Regions from separate parts of the Homo sapiens genome. Here region 2 is linked to region 1. Evidence: fine-mapped expression QTL. A gene starts in region 1. The other region holds a variant in brackets. All regions are shown on one strand. Distances are from middle to middle.

Region 1 (5,370 bases):
CCAGATGACAGCATTTGGAAAAGCACAAATGTATCTCAGGAAAGCCAGCTGTTTAACAAAAAGGTGGCGGTAGCGGTGATGAAAAATACTGTATTTAGTTTCATATATCCTCTGTATGACTTAGTTATTTTTTAATCACCGAATGTCAAACGAAACAGTTCATTCCACTCTACCTTCACAATCAGCATTCTAAAGGCAACTATTTACTCCAAAGTTCCTAAGCCAACTAAATATAAATGTAAACCTGTTTCGAAATGATGTTAGTGTTAAGACATATGCTACTCGAAACCCACCCTCGCCCCCCGCAATAAACACGAAGGACGAAAATCTAAAACCAACACTTACATATACTCCAGGTTACTACCAGAATATTTAAATGGCAGAATCCGAAATGAAATTGTTAAGATTAAACCTTATGACAGACAGTCTCAGTATCAACCGTATTTAATTTCATACCTTAAAAGTAAAACCGGCCGAGCGTGGTGGCTCACGCCTGTAATCCCAGCACTTTGGGAGGCCGAGACAGGCGGATCACCTGAAGTCAGGAGTTCGAGACCAGCCTGGCCAACATGGCAAAACCCCGTCTCTACTAAAAATACAAAAATTAGCCGGGCGTGGCGGCGGGCACCTGTAATCCCTGCTACTCGGGAGGGTGAGGCAAGAGAATCGCTTGAACCCGGGAGGCGGAGGTTGCAGTGACCCGAGATCGTGCCATTGCACTCCAGCCTGGGCAACAAGAACGAAACTGTCTCAAAAAAAAAAAAAAAAAGTAAAACCGAGGTAAGGTCAGCAAGGTCTTTGTTTTGGACAAGAAGCACAGAAGAGTTACAAACAAGCTTTTAAAATCAGATCCTTATAATAAAAACGAGTGTGTGTGTGTGTTTACTATTACCGTTTTCTGAGCTATCAATTTCTCACGGCCTGACTATGCCTATGGTCAGGTCATGAGAAATCTGTATGAAAAACAGCTTCCAAGAATGTCTATTCTTATGAAAATAAATATTAAAAACTTTCTGTAGAAAAAAAACTTTCAGTATAGGTAAAGTTACAACTGTTCACATCATTACTTTGTTCTATTAATACACACAAAATTAATTCCGACAACTGAACTAGTCATTTTAAAAACCCTGTTTTGCATTATTTCCCCCAACAAAGCATCCTAGGGGTGCTACAGTGAAACATGCTCAAAGACCATTGCCACCTCTGCTGTTCTGGAACAATGTAAATTTCTTCAAGGTGCCCTCTACTAACCAAGTTCATCTGGCCTGGGGCTAAGTTTTATCATTTATTCTTTCATACAGTACTGAAGGAAATCCGGAATCTATGAATATCATTGCCAACACCCCCTACACATTTCAAACCAGCTACCACTGTCCTCTGAAATCACTCAAGCCAGGTTTCCAGGGTCTCAACTCATTCGCATAGTTATTCAATTCCAACTGCAGGAAATCACTTGCATAAAGTAGGCCTTATGCAGGCTCAAATTACATTCAGGGACGTACGAGGCTCTCACAGCGATCACCATAAATTGGCTACCTTGTACTGGCCGAAGTACGTCAACGTGAACACCAGACACTCGAGAAAAACCGAACCTCGGCTACACAATGGATTAACCCAGTCAGAAGGCTCCAACTTGCAACTCCTTAAAGACGCTGAAGTTGGACATCTACAGAGCACCATTTTGAGTTTAGAATCCGCAGTTCACGCCTAGAAATAACCGAGCGGACCACTCAAATGGAGGTTTCATTTGGCGGAGGCAAAGGTTTGAGACAACTCCACTAATTACGTGCAGAATCACCAATACCGTCAAATGCCTTCGAATGCAATAGGTGCAGCCACGATCTAGCGGCTCCTCCTCCCCTACCTCCCGGCACAACATCCAAGCAGCAAGCCTTCATTTTTGCTAAGATCCCCAAAGCTCCGTGTAACATGCTTGCCAGTTATTTCTTCCCCAGGTTAACAGGCAGGGAACCCCCACATCCACATCTGCACATTTTCATAGCTACGAATCAATTAATTAAATCTCGTCCTCAAGGTAAAGGTGCAAAGGAGGCACCGCTTAAAGCAGAGGCGGCAACCAGGCGCTCGGGTTACGTTATCTGATAACAGGACAGATGTTGTACGGCTCGTTTTCCTCATACGCATTACTCCGCAGTCCGCAGCACCGTTAGAAAATCCACCTGATTTCAGAGCCGCAGAGCGCCCAGGGGTCCTTCTCCGCCCACCCGCAGCACGCCCCGGGTTTTTCTCTTCCCCCAAACAACGGCACCGGGCTCCTGCACCAAAACACGGCGGGTTCGCGCCTGCCATCACCAGTGCAAAATCTGCGGGGGGCTGCCCGGAAAGGACCGAATTTCACCGCTGCATGAGTTTTAAAAGGGAGGGGGCACATCCATCTTCAGCCCTCCATTCCACTCCCGTTTGATTGTGATGCACACCGGGCGTCTGCACAGCCCCGTCTCACACTAGCACACACGCGCCCCGGCCCCGGCCGCTTCCCGCCGCTCCCCTCAAACCCGGCCGGCCCGGGGCCTGGCGCCGCACGCGGGTCGCTAGGGGCCAGCGCCCGCCCCGGCTCGGCTCGGCCGAACAAAGGGCCCGCGAACCTCCCGGCAAAGTTGCGGCTGCGGCGAGGAGCGGGCGGACTGCCGCGCTCACCTGGGCTCCGTCCCCGGCGGCGGCGGCGGCTCCGCGGGGCTCCGGTGGCGCGGGCCTGGCGGCGGCGGCGGCACGAACAACCGCCCGAGGGCCTCGGGAGTGCGCGGGCGGCGGGGGCCCGCTCAGCGCCGGCGCCACGGACTCAGGTCCCGGCGCGGGCGGCGGCGGCGGCTGCGGCGGCGGCGCGGGCGAGTGGGCGGCGGCGCGTCCCGGCAGGTCCAGGTCCGGCCCCGGCAACGCCGCGACGCGTCCTCCTCCTCACGCCCGGCGGGATGCGGCTCCGGCGGGGTCCGGGTCCTAGGCGGCGGCGGCGGCGGCGGTGGCAGCTGCGGACGGCTGGGCGCGGGGCCGCTCCGCTCCCTCCGCCTCCGGCTCGGGCGGGCCCGCGGCTACTGCGACGGTGACGGCGGCGGGAGCGCGGCGGGCGCTGGGACTGCCCTGTCAGGGGGCGGCCCGGGCGGCGCTCAAGACTGCGCGGCGGCGGGGCCGGCGGCGGCGGCTACGGCTCCCGGGGCCGTCGCGCTGAGGTGCGGAGCTGCCACCGCGGCCATCTTGTTGCTCTAACTGACAAGAACCCCCCTCCCCCCGCTTCAGCCAGACGGGGCGCTCGCGCCCCCTTCCCCGCCCCGCGTTGGCCTCCAACAGGAAGTCGTCCCGGCCCCTAGCACGTGACTCCCACCGTATCTGCATACCGGAGGGCGAACTGGCCAATCGGCACTCTGCACCTGAGCTCCTCCCCCGCGCGCCCCTCCCGGCCCATTGGCTCCTCGGCCAGGCCACGCCTCCTCCTTTCCCCTTAATACCCGCCCGCGCTGTGGTTCCCTGCACCGCGCGGGGAGCGCGCCGGGGTGCGAGCGGTGCGCGCTCCGAGTGGCCGGGACGCGCGCCAGTCCTGGGAGCTTGCACTGCTCGGGGGGGTTACGTGGAGACTTGCGTGGTGTCCTTTACCGCCGCCGCCTGCCCTCCGGTCCCTGGGCGCTGTGGCTCCGCGTTAGGGTGCTGGCGGGAGGGGTGCCGATCCGGTTCTGCGCGTCCGGTGGGTTCTCCGGGCCAGCGCCCCGCGGCGCCCGGGCTTTATGCTGTAATTGCGCCCGGCGGCGCCCGGCGCCCGCACCGGCGCGCGTCTCGCCCGTGCCGTGCACACGCCCTGCACCGCCCCACTTTGCACACGCACACGCACACGAGTCCTTGGGGCCCTGGAGCATCGTGCTCGCCTCGCGCCTCCCGGCCCGCCCTTGCGCTCAGTCGCTCCCCAGGGAGCGCCCAGCTGCGAGCAAAACAAGCCTCGCTGCGAAACAGTCCCCCGGGGAGACAGCCCTTTCCCCGGAGCACAGACACCACACCTTCACCGCGCAAGCCTTCGGTCCGGGCCGAACCCGGGCGCTCCGGCGCCTACGCACCCCACGATTCCTCCCCGGTGCTCCGTACGCCGCCGTGATCCTCCATTCCACGGCTCCTCGATATCCATTATTCATTAGTGGTAGGTAAGGTCAGGCGCAATGTGCAATTCGAAAAGTCCCTTTTTAACTTTCGGTTCAAGCCAGGAGAAGATTTTGAAACCAAGAATTTTCTCCATTTTCATGCAAGGTCGCAGAAGCAGGCTAGCTTTTCCCCCATCGTTCAGTGGAGGATCAGCAGTGCTACTTGGAAGTTGGTATTGGAAGAGGCCATTCCCTGTCTACGTGTCCCTGTCTTGAAGAGGAGATAATAACACACTAGTACTTTCGCAATGCAATTTTGTTACCGCAAGTGTCATGCTTTGAAACGACTGTGGATGAAAGAGACAAATTCCCCGCTCTCGTTTCCCTTCAGGGTCCCATGAGCTCCTTTCTTCTTACTGCCATATTTTAAGCCCTCCGGTAGTCAGATTCACAACCAGCCTCTAAAGGGTCGTCAAATGTCTGTTGTATCGTGTTGTGTATTTCCCCTCCCGAGAACCCACATCCCTTAGAAGGATCTGAAGGCAGAGGGAGCTGACATGGAGGCTTCTGCCTTGTCTATTCATTTTATTTACGTTCATTTAATTCTCGACTGCAGAGAACCTACATCTTTTGTATTTCTCAAAGGTAGAGGTATTATCACATGCTCCAGAAGGGAGTGCAAAATAACATCTTCAAAATAGGCAGCGCCCACGAAGTAGACTGCTGCTACATAAATGAGGAATCCAGGTATCTGGGTGGACCAGAGTGGACCAATCATTGTGATAAGCAGAGCTTCACTTTTTGGAAAATTGAACCAAAATACATTATTTAGCATTGTCTTTGGTTCCCTTTCTTATCCCCCTCCCTCAGTTTAATCAGGCAAAAATCGTCCTCTTCTCCAATGATATTAGACTCTGAGCACCGAGAAAAGGCAGAACTATAGAGACTATATGTTCTGAACCCCAAACTGGACTCATAGTTTGGCATGTGGACCTGTGACAGTAGAGATAATGTTTGAAACTAAAGTTGACCCAGAAACATTGAGGCATATGGTGGCCATGAATGTTAAGACTGCAGAGCAGTGTCACTTATTAGTGGTTGTTTGAACTGATAAAGTATGAGTAGGAACCCCAGGCACAACTGTAAAAATGGGTACGTTCATGTTTCGGGTTGGTCATCCTGTTATCAGCCCTGCCACCACCACCTTATAACTAAGGTATAAGTTGATCATCTATAGGGCTGGGCATGGTGGCTCACGCCTGTAATCCCAGCACTTTGGGAGGCCAAGGCA
Region 2 (5,370 bases), 170 kb after region 1:
GGCCTCTTCCCAGCTGGCCTCGACGGTCCCATCCCATCGACGCAGAGCTCCCCCAGCCTCCTCCCCACATCCACGTGGTCATTCTGGACATCTCCTCCCTCTCCCTTCTGCCTGACATGCAGGCAGTCAGGATTTCTCTCCCGGGGAGTCCAGCATCTGTCATTTCCCGTTTGGATCCATGCCTACCCTCTTGGCCTGGGGGTAGGAGACTGTCCACCCCACCTGGATGGGACAGTGGCATCCTCTCCAGCCACCGACACTGACCGTGCCTCTTCCATACAGTCTTCTCTCCTTTCCCGACTCCCTCTTTTTTTTTTTTTTGAGACAGACTCTCACTCTGAGGCTGGAGTGCAATGGCGCGATCTCAGCTCACTGCAACCTCCGTTTCCCAGGTTCAAGGATTCTCCTGCCTCAGCCTCCAGAGTAGCTGGGACTACAGGTGCGTGCCACCACACCCAGCTAATTTTTGTATTTTTAGTAGAGAAGGGGTTTCACCATGTTTGCCAGGCTGGTCTTGAACTCCTGACTTCAAGTGATCCTCCTGCCTCGGCCTCCCAAAGTGCTGGGATTACAGGCATGAGCCACCGCACCAGAACCCTGATTCCCTCTTGCTCGATCCATGGCCCAGCCCCTGAAACCTGCTACGACCTTCAGCCACCAGCTTCCTCAGGCCCATCTCCTGTGGCTCCTTCCTTCACTCCTCTGCACTCTGCTGCGAGGTCCCTGAGCACCCGCTCCTTTTCTTGCCTTTGTGGCTTTATCCCACAGTGCCTACCTAAGCACTCTTTCTGTTCTTCTGACCTATGTCCACCCACTATGACCAACTTCTTTTCATCCTCAAACCCAGCTCTGCAGTCACCTGGTTCATGAAGTCTCTGATGACCCACCCACCCCAGGACGAGAGAGGCCCTCTCTCTTCTGTGTGCCCTTTGAGCCAGGCACGGGCTTCACCACCTAGAAGGCATCCAATACCTCATGGGCGTGACATTCTTGGTGATGGGTGCTGTCTTGTTCTGATCTCTGCACTGCACCACCGGGCCCAGCACACAGAAGGCAGCATGAAATGCAGGTTAAACACACCCAACCAGACCCTTTGGGTGCAAGGACCTTGCCTTTCTCACCTTTGCACCTTCTGAACAAAGCAGCAGGTCCAGTCGCTGACATTTGCTGAATGAATGGATGCTGGATGCGCGAAGACCTGGGCGAGGAGCGTATGAACGGGCGTGTGTGTGTGGACGCGGGGAAGGGCAGGAGGCAGGCTGCAGCGGTCAGCACAGGGGCGGTGTGGGCGGGGAAGTGCTTGCTTGCTTGCTTGCAAACACACATGTCACGCTCGGGTTGAGCATCCCTCATAATGGCCTTATTTTGGCTTCTCTAAATTGATTCCTGATGTGCTCAAGTGTGGCCCTGGCATCTTTGGGGGTTGGAAATTCCGGATGCTGCAGTAATTGTTCTTGCTAATTACCAGGAAGCATCAAATAAGAGGAGCTTGTTTTCTCTTCCTGGCTGGATTTTGTTATGCTAATTAGACTTGTGTAAGCTGTTGCTCTTGAACCTGGAGAGTTAGAAAAACATTTGCATTAATACCTGGGAAGCTGCTGCAGAAGCCAGTTATTATTTTAATGATGGCCATTGAAGAGTGCTCCTGTTTGGGGGCTGAGTTCAGGTGTGTGCATGTGTGCGTGTGAGTGTGCATGCATGTGAGTGTGCCTGGGTGTGAGTGTGCATACGTGCATGTGCGTGGTGTTCTAATGGCCTGTCCCGTGCTATGCACTTGCTTGCTTGGTGAGACGGCAAGTCTCATTGCCTCTGCAGCACAGACCCTCATTCATCCCTCATCCCCTCCTGGGTAGCCAGGAGCCAAGATATGAAGGCAAGAGGGGTAATGAGCTCTTAAATTCTGGTCTTCGCTTTTCAAGTCAATACCAATGTTAATTAAACATCAACCACCCAGATTTCCAGTCTGGAAGGCAAGGAGGGAAGCCACCTCTCTCTGGAGTTCTCAGGGACTAATGGAGGCTCTCCTGGCCTTGTCTTCCGGCCACCTGGCTCAGTCCCTGCCCTTCCCTCCTCAAAACCGCAGGTGCTTCCCACAACTTCTTGGCCACCTTCAGCCCACAGTGGTTCCCTGTGTGAAGGGAGATGTGGGTGGAAACACTTTTGGAAAGACATTGGCAGCAAGGGGAGTGGGTAGGGTCCTGATGCTTTTTGCACAGACCCTTGAGGGAACTGTGAAAGGAAAATAAATCTTGGGGCCTCAAAATCACTGAACTAAAGGGAAAGTCAGGCTGGGAACTGCTTAGGGCAAACCTGCTTCCCGTTCTATTCAAAGTCCCCCCTTTGCTCTCTGAGATACATGCATTGCCTCCTTTGGAGAGGCTCATCAGAAACTCAAAAGAATGCTACCA[T/C]TTGTCTCCTCTCTACCTATGAGCGGAAGCCCTCTCCCTGCTTCCAGTTGTCCTGCCTTTCCGGGACAGAACCAATGTTCATCTTACATATGTTGATTGATGTCTCTTGTCTCCCTAAAGTGTATAAAACCGAGCTGTGCCCTGACCACCTTGGGCACATGTCATCAGGACCTCCTGAGGCTGTGTCATGGGCGCACGTCCTCAACCTTGGCAAAATAAACTTCCTAAATTAACTGAGACTGTCTCAGATATTTTGGGTTCACAGAACCACAGGCCGCCTGGCCCTGTGCTGCCCACCTGCACCCGCTGGGCCTTCAGCTGATGAGAGGAGTGTGAGGGCCAGGGTGGCTTCACCTGCTGGGAACCTTGCTCGGCCAGCTTCTCTCCCCTGGCCCAGGGACAGGTCCTCGAGTCCCTGGCACAGTGACTCTCATTCTCTGGCTGAATACCTCCTTCTTCCCTCCCCTTGACACCCCCACACGCACCCCACATGCCCAGCGGCAGCTTCTGTTGCAGAGAGCCCGGCGAAGGGAGCTCACGGAAGCTCCAGGAGCCTGAGAGCCTTAGGAGGCCCTGGGTGTCAACGTTGCCTGATTTTCTCATTTCATCTCTTATAAGCTTTCAGGACGCTAACATGATTAAGTTCTTCACACAATTTATTAGCATCATGTTGGAAATCCAGTAGTATATTATACTGTCTGAGTAATCCAATTAGCAAAATGTATTTATTTAACAGGAATATCAGCCGCATGCGATCCCACACCATGTCCCTGCCCAGCCTTCTCTACTCCTGATGCATGTCCCCCATGGAAAGGATGTTCTGTGCACGCAGGAGGCAATGAGGGAGGGTGAGGCAGCCCAGAACCCATGGTGTGGGGTGGGGAGAGAGTGGTGTGGGTGGCCGGGTCACCCCCTAGAGCTGGGATCGAGTGAGCCACGCTGAGTTGCAGGTGTTCAGTTCTGAAGCAGGATGTTCCTGTGGGAAGGGTGAGTCCACACAGCACTAGGTCTAAATTCTGGCTTTGCCCTGGCTTCTCACTCTGTGAATCCTGGGCAGGCTCTTGAAAGTTTCTGCACCCAATTTCCTTAATATCTGTGAAATGGAGACAAAATCCCCTCCTTGCAAGCCAGGCCAGTTCTGAGGATGGGGGTTGGGGGACGGATGAGACTTTTCTCTGCCCGTCTGGTCCTGTAAGCCCCCTCACTTCAAGATATCCCACCTTTTGAGGCCAAACCAATGTATAATGTTCATGTACTGATTAACGATTTTGCCTGAAACTTCTGCTTTCCTGAAATATACTCCCGCCTTTGAAAACCCTTGCTTGTGGCCGGGTGTGGTGGCTCATGCCTGTAATCCCAGCACTCTGGGAAGCCCAGGTGGGCGGATCAACTGAGGTCAGGAGTTTGAGATCAGCCTGGCCAACAAGGCCAAACCCCAACTCTATAAAAAATACAAAAATTAGCTAGGCATGGTGGTGCATGCCTGTAGTCTGAGCTACTTAGGAGGCTGAGGCAGGAGAATTGCTTTAACCCAAGAGGCAGAAGTTGCAGTGCACCGTGATCTCACCACTGAACTCCAGCCTGGGTGACAGAGTGAGACACAACAAGAAAAGAAACCACCAACAAGAAAAAACAAAACCGTTGCTCGTGAGCCATTGAGGATGTTGGGTCTTAAGTGTGAGCTGCCTGATTCTCCTTGCTTGGCACCTGGCAAATAAACGCCCTCCTTTCTCCTGCTGCAAACCTCAGTGTGGGTATTTGGCTTTACCAACCTGGGTGAGTGGAGCCAGTTTTGTTTTGGTAACAGACCCTCCTAGCTGTTCCTAGCTCCTCCATCTGCTTGGAGATGGTGCCTGGGCTCTGGATGGGGCTCCCCATCCTTGGCATAGCGCTGGGTGCTCAGAGCAAAGATCAGCCAAAAGGAGTCCACGCCTCTGCTGTTCAGTGCAAGGGCGATGACAGTGTAAACAAGAGCAGTGCCCTGACACCTGAGGAGCTGAATGAGGATGCTCGGCTGCTCGCGGGTGGCTGGGAAATCACCTCCTTGAGAAGGTGTGGAGAGGCGGAAGACACTGCGTTCTCACTTCTAACCAGCTGCCTCTCGAGAGGCACCACCGCTGTGGCAGCACCGTTGAGCCCTCCCTTGCCATGGTCACCAGCATCCGTCCGGGCACCCGGAGGCCCCTGATGAAGGCAGGTGTGGTGGGGGCTGCGCGTGTCCATCACTGCCTCATCCTGCCTGCCCACCCCCAAACTGGGTGCCAGAGTCCTTCTCGTGCTGATTTCACTCATCACAGTTGTGGTCCTGCCAGGTGGGCACCCTCAGCCATTCTCCCTGGACCATCACCATCAAGGCTGTGGCTGCAGGAACCTGGGCCTACCTAGGCTGGGGGGGGTCCCCTCCCCAACTTCCAGCCAGTCCCCAGCCACCATGTCCAGGAAACATTAGGCTGTCTTTCTCACTCCTTGTACTTGATTCTTTCATTTGCACAGTGGGCAGGGAGCAAGACCCTTGCTTCCTACTCTAGAAATTCTTAGCAAGAACGACTGCTGTCCGGAAGTTTTTCTTTTTTTTTAATTTTTTTGTTTTTTTGTTTTTTTGTTTGAGACAGAGTCTCCTTCTGTTGCCCAGGCTGGAGTGCAATGGTGCAATCTTGGCTCACCGTAACCTCCGCCTCCCTGGTTCAAGCGATTCTCCTGCCTCAGCCACCTGAGTAGTTGGGATTACAGGCACCCATTATCATGCCTGGCTTATTTTTGTATTTTTTTAAAGATGGGGTTTCAACATGTCGGCCAGGCTGGTCTTGAACTCCTGACCTCAGGTGATCCTCCTGTCTTGGTCTCCCAAAGTGCTGGGATTATAGCCGTGAGCCACTGCACCTGGATCTGAAATTCTTAGTACTTTATTAACAAGGTCTCCCCTTGTCATGTGCACTGGGCTCCACAGATTAGGTAGCCCGTC

Direction of the effects. Positions count from the first base shown, and alleles are read on the strand shown. Sizes are in standard deviations (SD) of each study's normalised expression.
As copies of C replace T in region 2, the expression in tibial nerve of the gene that starts at base 3,224 in region 1 goes up (small effect, 0.25 SD a copy in GTEx).

Evidence for each region. PIP is the estimated chance that this variant, and not a neighbour inherited with it, causes the effect.
Region 2: its variant is the best candidate, but not a certain one, in a credible set for the expression of TNRC6C in tibial nerve (GTEx, PIP 0.89).

Annotation. Positions count from the first base shown.
Region 1 is chr17:77,956,557-77,961,926 of GRCh38, reverse strand. It overlaps TNRC6C (trinucleotide repeat containing adaptor 6C), which reads right to left and starts at 3,224. Exons shown (of 23, transcript NM_001142640.2): 1 at 2,659-3,224. RefSeq lists enhancers at 2,289-2,847, 2,848-3,407 and silencers at 3,080-3,539, 3,560-3,609.
Region 2 is chr17:77,783,297-77,788,666 of GRCh38, reverse strand. No RefSeq gene overlaps it. Among named protein-coding and RNA genes, the nearest start is that of LINC01987, 57 kb to the right of the region's middle. The variant T/C (reference allele first, on the strand shown) is at 2,409.